Homo sapiens: one gene and its partner. The protein of the gene in region 1 binds, or shares a complex with, the protein of each later gene. Each region holds a gene or a part of one and is shown on either strand. Other genes may lie near its edges. A codon is read from its position in the direction of its gene.

What was found.
Region 2: the proteins of EME2 (region 1) and MUS81 are in contact, whole or in part, in a crystal structure (PDB 7F6L), measured with the Homo sapiens proteins. Residues at the interface, in NP_001244299.1 of Homo sapiens: Glu140, Arg177, His179, Glu220, Glu221, Val224, Leu225, Gln227, Leu228, Trp229, Asn231, Leu232, Asp233, Leu235, Arg245, His246, Ala249, Val250, Lys252, Ala253, Leu254, Gln256, Tyr257, Lys260, Gln261, Glu264, Gln266 (codon at 286), Phe268 (codon at 292), Phe270 (codon at 298), Cys271 (codon at 301); in NP_079404.3 of Homo sapiens: His330, Glu351, Phe354, Lys357, Arg358, Arg363, Val365, Glu381, Leu385, Gln386, Thr389, Asn390, Gln392, Val393, Ile394, Phe398, Lys400, Arg401, Tyr411, Leu414, Leu415, Arg417, Gly418, Leu419, Arg421, Leu422, Pro447, Ile464, Lys467, Ala468.

The regions. Positions count from the first base shown.
Region 1 is NC_000016.10:1,775,528-1,779,424, forward strand, and holds part of EME2 (structure-specific endonuclease subunit EME2), read left to right. Parts: intron 1-41; coding exon 42-157; intron 158-269; coding exon 270-459; intron 460-540; coding exon 541-711; 3' UTR 712-1,569; coding exon of another isoform or gene 1,570-1,916; 3' UTR 1,917-2,219; coding exon of another isoform or gene 2,220-2,345; 3' UTR 2,346-2,418; coding exon of another isoform or gene 2,419-2,521; 3' UTR 2,522-2,606; coding exon of another isoform or gene 2,607-3,085; 3' UTR 3,086-3,897. Other genes in the region: SPSB3 (SPRY domain-containing SOCS box protein 3), read right to left, coding at 1,570-1,916, 2,220-2,345, 2,419-2,521, 2,607-2,794, 2,908-3,085. UniProt on the Homo sapiens protein: Non-catalytic subunit of the structure-specific, heterodimeric DNA endonuclease MUS81-EME2 which is involved in the maintenance of genome stability. In the complex, EME2 is required for DNA cleavage, participating in DNA recognition and bending.
Region 2 is NC_000011.10:65,858,198-65,862,094, reverse strand, and holds the start of MUS81 (structure-specific endonuclease subunit MUS81), read right to left. Parts: upstream 1,663-3,897; 5' UTR 1,342-1,662; coding exon 1,207-1,341; intron 1,123-1,206; coding exon 993-1,122; intron 746-992; coding exon 660-745; intron 149-659; coding exon 50-148; intron 1-49. UniProt on the Homo sapiens protein: Catalytic subunit of two functionally distinct, structure-specific, heterodimeric DNA endonucleases MUS81-EME1 and MUS81-EME2 that are involved in the maintenance of genome stability.

The DNA of each region.
Region 1 (3,897 bases):
CCTTCCTCTGGCTCGTGCCCATCAGCTTGCCTCCTCCCCAGGCCCTGGTACTCCTGCAGCTCTGGGCAAACCTGGACGTGCTACTGGTGGCCTCTTGGCAGGAGCTGAGTCGGCACGTGTGCGCCGTTACCAAGGCTCTCGCCCAGTATCCCCTCAAGTGCGTGATGCCAAGGCTGAAGGGGGGCAGGATCACCTCAAGGTAGTGGTGCCTCCCCGGCCTTTTGGGAGCTGCTCACATGAGGTTCTAAAAGGCTTCTCTCTGTCCCCAGGCAGTACCGGGAATCCCAGGCCTTCTCCTTCTGCACAGCAGGGCGCTGGGCAGCCGGCGAGCCAGTGGCAAGAGACGGCGCAGGGCTGCAGGCGGCCTGGCGGAGGCAGATCAGGCAGTTCAGTCGGGTCAGCCCAGCCGTGGCTGATGCAGTTGTCACAGCCTTCCCCTCCCCCCGCCTTCTGCAGCAGGTGGGCCCCTGCCTCCTCCAAGCCCTCCAGGTGCAGAAGCCCCGTCCCCAGGCGCCCTCTCATGCCTTTGCCTGCTCCTAGGCGCTGGAGGCCTGCAGCACGGAGCGGGAGCGCATGGGCCTCCTGGCCGACCTTCCTGTGCCGCCCAGTGAAGGCGGGCGTCCCCGCAGGGTGGGGCCTGACCTCTCCCGCCGCATCTGCCTCTTCCTGACCACAGCCAACCCTGATCTCCTGCTGGACCTGGGCTCCTGACCACACGTGGGACCACCAGGACAGCATGCAGCCTTGGGGACAGACCAGACACCCTGGGCGGTGGGGGAGGACCCCCAGCCACATGTGGACCCTCAGCCTGGGTGGGTTCTCTGGCTGAGCAGGTCTGACCTCAGGGGAAGGGTGGGTGGTTGCAGGGGAAGTTTTAGGTAGCTGGGAGAAGAGGGGCTTCTGGCTGGCAGATGGCTGGCGGTTCCTGTGCTGAGTCCTGAACACGTAGGCCCCAGGGGAGGCCTCAGCAGCAGGGCTGTGCCCCCCCAACACACACACACACTCGGCAGGGACCAGAAGGCAGCTCCAGGGCCCCACTGCCACCTGGAGGCTTGGGGTGTGGCACCCTCAGCCAGAAGCAGTAGGGGACTCCCAAGGATGTGGAGGGGCAGTGAGGCCTGGGAGAAGGCCCAGGCTGCTCGCAAGCCCGGCCTCTGCACGGATACGTTTCAGCTCACGCCATGTGGGTGTTAGACATCAACTCTACATTTATTGCAGTCCTTTAAGTCTATGACGGCGGGGCAGCCGCTGACAGCATGCAGAGCAAGTTAGGAAAAACCGAGGCCCTGTGGGAACAGCAACGCGGGCTCCAGCCAGGCTCTCGTCCTCGCAGCCTCCCACAAGACCTGGGGCTCAGGGCAGCCGCTTCCCCACCCAGCACAGCAGCAGAGGGGCCCTAGAGCCCCCACAGAAAGGACTGTCCCAGCCTCGGGAGCAAGAGATGGCTCCCTCCGGACGGGCCTCATCCAACTCCGCCCTGGAGTGTGGCTGGAAGGAAGGGACAGAGAAAGAAGGGACAGAGGAAAGGGGCTGTCCCAGCCCAAGAAGGCAGTTCCACTGGGAAGTCAGTCAGGTCCGGCGGCAGCGCTTCCTCTGGCAGGGCCGAGGCTCGCGACTGCTGGGGTGGGCGGAGGTCGCTGCCTGGGGATCGGACACTGGAGCCTTGCGGCGGCTGCAACTCATGCTCAGGACCCAGCCCAGCTTGTTGTGTAGCACCTGCTTGAGGCCCGGCGGCAGCGGCAGACCCTCCAGCGTGTCTCCCGAGTCTGGCCGCAGCTGGCGCAGGCGGTGGCAGCACAGGTACTGGAGGGAAGTGGCGCTGGCACAGGAGCGGGTGACCTTCATGCTGCTCCGGGCCGCCGTGGAGCACACCATCGGGTAGAATCTCTTGTTCTGCAGCTTGGTGGCTGCCACACCTGGAAGGGAGGGGCCCAGCCTGAACCCCAGGCAGGGAAGGGGCCAGCTACTGGGCGCAGCCCCTCAGACCTCACGCTACAGTCACCCGGGTGGGCAGCTGGCACAGCTGAGGCAAGGCAGGGTGCACGCGCTGGCCCTGCCACTCCAGCCTGGCCTCACTGTCCCACCCCCTGGGACCCTGGGGCCTCAGGCTTCTGGGAGGAACCCTTTCAGAAAACCTCAGTGTCCCCTGGGCTGGGGCGGGGTGGCTGCCTCCCTCGGGGTGACAGCTGAGAGGAGCTCAAGTCCTGTGACGGCCTCACCTATACACTTCCTGTTCTTGAAAAAGGTGAGTGTGCCGTGCCAGGTGTCCAGGTGCACGCCAATGATGGAGCCCTGGCCGAACCGCGATGAGAAGCTGGTCTTGTCGCCCTTGTGGTGGAGGAGGCCTGGGGGCAGCCAGGGTCGCAGTGAGCCCGGGAGCTCCAGGCTCGGCCCCGCCCCACCCTGGGCCTCACGCACCCGTGTAGGAGAGGCCCCAGCTGTCCTCATCCCTGCCCAGCAGGCTGCAGAACGTGTGGCGGTATTTGTCCAGGTCCACATCCGACGTCCCGATGCCCACCATCTAGGAACAGGGGCCAGGCAGAGGGCGCGGGGCTGGGCTGCCGGAGCCAGGTTCCCCAGAAGCACCCTGGGCCGAAGCAACTTACCATGTCGGTGCCGTAGACGGGAGAGGTCATCTTGATCTCCCAGAAGTGCTGGCCCTCCCCCAGCTCCTTGGTGCCCCGGATGGCCGCTGTGCCGCAGCTGTACTCCATGTGGAAGCTGACCTTACGGTTGTCACAGCTCAGCAGGGTGGCTGATGACTTATTTAAGTCATCCCAGACCCAGTCGAAATCTGCAAGAGAGGCCCAGGCTGGGGCAGCCCTGAGAGCTCCATGGGGCTCTGCCCTGCCCACCCCCAGGCCCGCCCGCAGTGCAGTCCCAGCAGGGGCTGGGCCCCACGCTCACACTCGTCTTCCTCTCCGCAGCGGCAGTCCCTGCCCCGGTGGGCCGAGTGCAGGCTGCTACAGAAGGAGGCCTCGCTCTGCCCAGCACAGTCACAGAAGGACTCGCCGGTCACGGGCACCGCACTGGGGATGGATGGCGGCAGCGTGGAGTACTCGGGGTCGGAGTCCGAGTCGCTGTGCTGGGAGAGAAGGGCCGGCTGTTACTACCTGTTGCCCGCTCTCTACCCTCTCACCCTTGCCCTCTGTCCCTGTCCCACCCTGTCCCTGACCCACCCAGGAAAGGATGGGGGTCCAGGCCTCCAGGGACTTCACAGTACCCCGAGCGCACAGCCCAGGCTCCCTCCCAACGGGCTCCGGCTCTGCCCCATTCTGCATGACCAGGAGGGCCCTGGAGGCCCAGCCACAGAGCAGTAGCCAAGGCTGCCTGGCCTCCAAGTGGTTTCTAGACGGTGGATAAGCCCCAGGTCCACCCCACCTGCCCAGAGCTGAGATGGTGTGGACACCTTCCCTGCTAGGCCAGCCCTGCAGGGGCCCCCAGGCAAGGCCACCACCCCCACACCAGGCCCAGCTGCAGCCACCCGGCCTCAGGGCAGTCCCCACCACACTGTGGCCCAACGACCTTCCTGTTACCTGAGCAGACCTGGCTCACCACAGGGTCCTACTGCCCAGTGCCCACTACAGGCCCCGCCCCTCCTGGTGCAGGTTTCAGCTGTCACCTCCCTGAGGCTTCTCCAGCCCCTTCACCCCTGTTCCATTTTTCTTCTTTTGCTTCACTGAAGTTCTCCTTGGTCCTGATTCTTGGCCTCCTCCCACCAGAACGTGAGCTCCTTGTGGGAGGCAGTGCCCCTCCCAGCCTCCTCCCTGTCACAGACTGTGTGGGGGCCACCCAGGGGCTGAATGGACCAGGGGGTCAGCAGGGAGAGTGCTAAGTGGTGGCGGGGGGCCTGTGGCAGAGGCCTTGTGACAGTGAGGGTTGAGGGCTGGTCCAGAG
Region 2 (3,897 bases), on another chromosome or scaffold:
TCCCACCCCACTGCCATGGTTCCGCCTCCCGGTGTAGCCCAGTGCTCACCAGGTGCTCCCGGTAGAGCACCAGCAGTATCACTCGGGCTCCTGAGTGCCGAGCTGGCCAGTAGCTGCCAGAGCCTCCCGCTTTGGGCTGGGCAGGAACCTGAAAGGTACAGAGGAGTTCTGAACATGAAAGCCAGCCAGTCATCTTTGAATAAGTCCCCAGCAGGCTTTGTGGCCCTGGGTAAGTCACTCAGTTGTCTCTCAGTTTCCTTCTCTGTAAAATGGGCCAGGTGATGGGATGATCCGCTGCAAATCTGGGATAAAACAGCAGGCAGTTTCGGGGCAGTGGGTGGGGGTGTCTGCCCAGCCTGGCCTCACTTCTACCATGCGCTGCAGGACAGGTGTAATTAGACAGGAAAACTCAATAATGGTGACCCCGTAACTAACTGAGCTGGGATCCTTAAGTAGCTTGATCATGGAATTCTCTCATTGGCTGTTACCAATATTTCTATTCACAGGTTAAAATACTAAGTCGAAAAGAGGATAAGTCATTTGCTCAAGGCCAGGCATCACTGGTGAGATTTGGACTCAGGCTTGCCAAATCCCCCAAGCCAGAAAATCATACTCCCGCACTCCCACTTTGCCTTCCACTCCCCTTGCCCCTTCCTCACTGGCATGGAAGAGTCCTGGACTTCCGCAAGTCGCCCCTGCGGGGCTGGACTGTTCTCTCCAGATGGTGAGTCCGGGGCATGGTCACCTGCGGGAGAGAAAAGAGTTAACTCCACACTCCACGAATCCGGCAGCTGCGAGGATCTGGGATGCAACCTACTCAGATGGTTACGTGAGACCGGTGAGGGAGGCTCAGGGAGCGCCAGCCACTAGCCCTAGGCCGAACGGCAACTGGGACAGGAGTGGGGAGCTTAAAAGCCAAGGGCTCCCAGGAGAGTACGGAGGCTCCACCTGGGGGAGGTGGGGGATCACCGACCCCTTTCCGAGGCGCTCACCGCCCGATGTTCGGTGCCGCTGCAGCCGCTCGTCCAGCATCCGGCAGAGCCCGTCTCCGAAGTGCTGTAGGATCTTAGCTTCCTTCCCGCTGCGCAGCGGCAGTGGGTACCGTCGGAGGGAACGCAGCGCCTGGCCGGGCAGGGGTAGGGTACCTGGTCAGGGCAGGCCTGACCTGGCCAGCAGCTTTTCCCATCGGGCCACGCCAGGACCCACCTTCTGAAATACGAAGCGCGTGCGGCGCCTGCTGCGGGTCGCCTCGTCCCGCCACTCGGTCAGCCAGCGAACGAAGAGCGGGTTGGGACAGGCAGGCAGCGGGCGCTTCCGGCCCAGGCGGACCGGGGCCGCCATGAGCCCGAGGGCGGGTCCTCCGGCGCTCCACGCCCGCGGGACTGGGACGCCGCCAGTTCTGGAGTCGGGATTCGAACACCTGGCCCAGGGCGGGGCGGGGGAAGAGGGAGACCGAGGGCAGGACCGTTGAGATCACGGGGCCCCAAACACAGGGGGCACTAACGAGAGGAGAGCCTGCGGCCGCCCTCCCACCCCTGCGCTGCTCTAAGTGGTTGGTCAGGGGCGCTGTCTCTAACGATCTTTTCCCTTGGCTCCACTCCAGCCAGCCTTTGAGACGCGCCCTTTCCCAGCCCCCGGAGCCTGGACCGGCTCCTTCCTGTCACCCCAGATTCGAGAGCGGGGTCTTTGTGTAGGCGAGAGGAAGGCGGACAGCGCCCCCTGTGACGGGGAGGACTGGCTGGGCGGCGCTTAACGGACTAACCTGAGCTTGGCGGCTCTAAGGTCTCTTAAGATTGTCAGCTTCAGCCTCAAGCTTGAAGGAGGCTGGAGATGGAGACTGGTCTTGAAAAGAGTCCAGGAGAGGCGGGGGCTAGGAGACAAACGGGTGCAAACGTATTGGTGGGAGGGACACCCAGAAATGGGTGCCGGGGATGAGGACACAAAGGTAAGGCAGGAGGAGCTGCAGGACCCTTGGAGGAAATGGTGATCCTCATCCCCGGGATACAGGGCAAAGAGTGTGTGGTGGAGAGGAAGTCGGGGACGTGCCGAGAAGGCCCAAAATAGAACTCGGAATGTCGGGGGTCAGAGGCCTAGAGGAAGGAGGACTGTAAGTAAGAGGTGCTTGGGCATCCTGGCAGTTGGGGAGGCCTGAGATGGGCACGCGGTTGGGTTTGGGAGCGGAGGAGCAGGCTGCGGGTTAAGAAGCCCAGACACAGGTAGAGGGGAGAACACTTCGTCATTTTTGTGGCTAATCGGAAGTGGGAGACCCTCAGGGAGGTTGAAGATGGAAACCCTACAAAGGGCTTCAACCTGAGAAGCCTGAAAGACACGTATAGCTGAGTTGGACACAGGCGACCCGCCAGGGTTTGAAGCAGCACCCGGCCTCTAGCTGCTATGCCGGAAGTCGCAACACGCAGGTCTCCAGCCTGCGAGGAAGGGAGAGGTGGGCGCCAGAGCTCCAGTCCCGCCCCTCAGGACTGTGCCTAGCCCACGGCGCAGTAGCCCCAGCCAAGCTAAATTGGACCAATGGGCTCCGGCTCCCGCCTCCCGCCCGCCGCGGCCTTATAAGGAGCCTCAAGCCGGCTGTCGGGCTGGCCCCGCCCCCTCGAGTCTCTTGTCCTAATAAGGACATCTAGGGCATCCCGCGGCTGGGGGCGGGCGAGAGCGCGTCTCCAGGGTAACTGCGAAGCCCCCCTCTCTCTCCCCGTTGCTCTTGGAAACTCTAAGGCTCAGAAAAGGGGGCGCTAGCCTCATATTCATGTAGGGTCGCTCGCGGGAGGCGGGGTCAAGCTGCTGTCTCCACCTGGAGCGCCGGGAGTCCGGGCGGGGGCGGTGCTGTGGAATGTCCCCGACTACAACCCCCGGTATGCTCTGCAAGGTACCCCACTCCCAGGCATCGCTCTCCGTTTACACCCTTAATTCCGTTTATAGGATTAGGGCCCCCAGTTCCCTTTCTGGGTTTGCCTCTGACTTGTTTGCGACCCAGTCTTTTCCTGCAGAGTGTGAGGCTGTGGTCACTGTTCTAGAACAACAAAATCATCCCGGAGTCCCCCGCTCGTTTCTTTTTTTTTTTAAGGCATATACTACCACAGAACTTGTCTCAGTTTTGCGGATGTTAGAATAACCATGTACCTGGCTATCAACTCGAGAGCTGGGTTCAAGTCTGGTTTAATATCTATTTCTTCTCATTGGCACGTAAAGGCATGTAAAGAAGCCTTGAATTGAATGCACAAACCCTCGTCTTTACCCTTTAACGCCTCATGACTTTGCCAAACATCTTTAAACAAGAACAAAGCTCTCAGAGATTTCCTTGTACCTTTCCCCTGTGCCTTTTCCTCCTATTCTTGTTTTACTGACGTTGGACATGGCCTTTTTTCAGGAGACGAGAGTGGCTTTACACATGCAGAGTACTAGTGTTTATCCGACTGACGACGCCTTCATACTTGTGATTTCCTTTGCTTTAGGTCGGGATTCCAGGCTAATCAATAGTTGCTTCGATTCAGAAATGCAAAACCCTAACCTCACTCAAAAATTTCAGGCCAAGGGATCCAGATAATACCAGATGGGTCTTAAGAAAGCCGTTTTGCTGTGGGATAAAGAGCCGCTTAGTCGGGGATCGTTTTCGGGTCATTTTACTGAGCGCCGCCTCGCCGGGCTCAGAGCGGTTCCTGGGAAATTGGACCAATGGGCTCGCGCTGCGCGCTGCGGTGCCGCCCAGGACCTGGGCCTACATTTCCCTACATGCACTGCAGCTCGGAGCCGGCCGGCGGGAAGACTCCGTTACCCAGCGAGCGAGGCGGCGGCGCAGGGCCAGCGGACTCCATTTCCCGTCGGCTCGCGGTGGGAGCGCCGGAAGCCCGCCCCACCCCTCATTGTGCGGCTCCTACTAAACGGAAG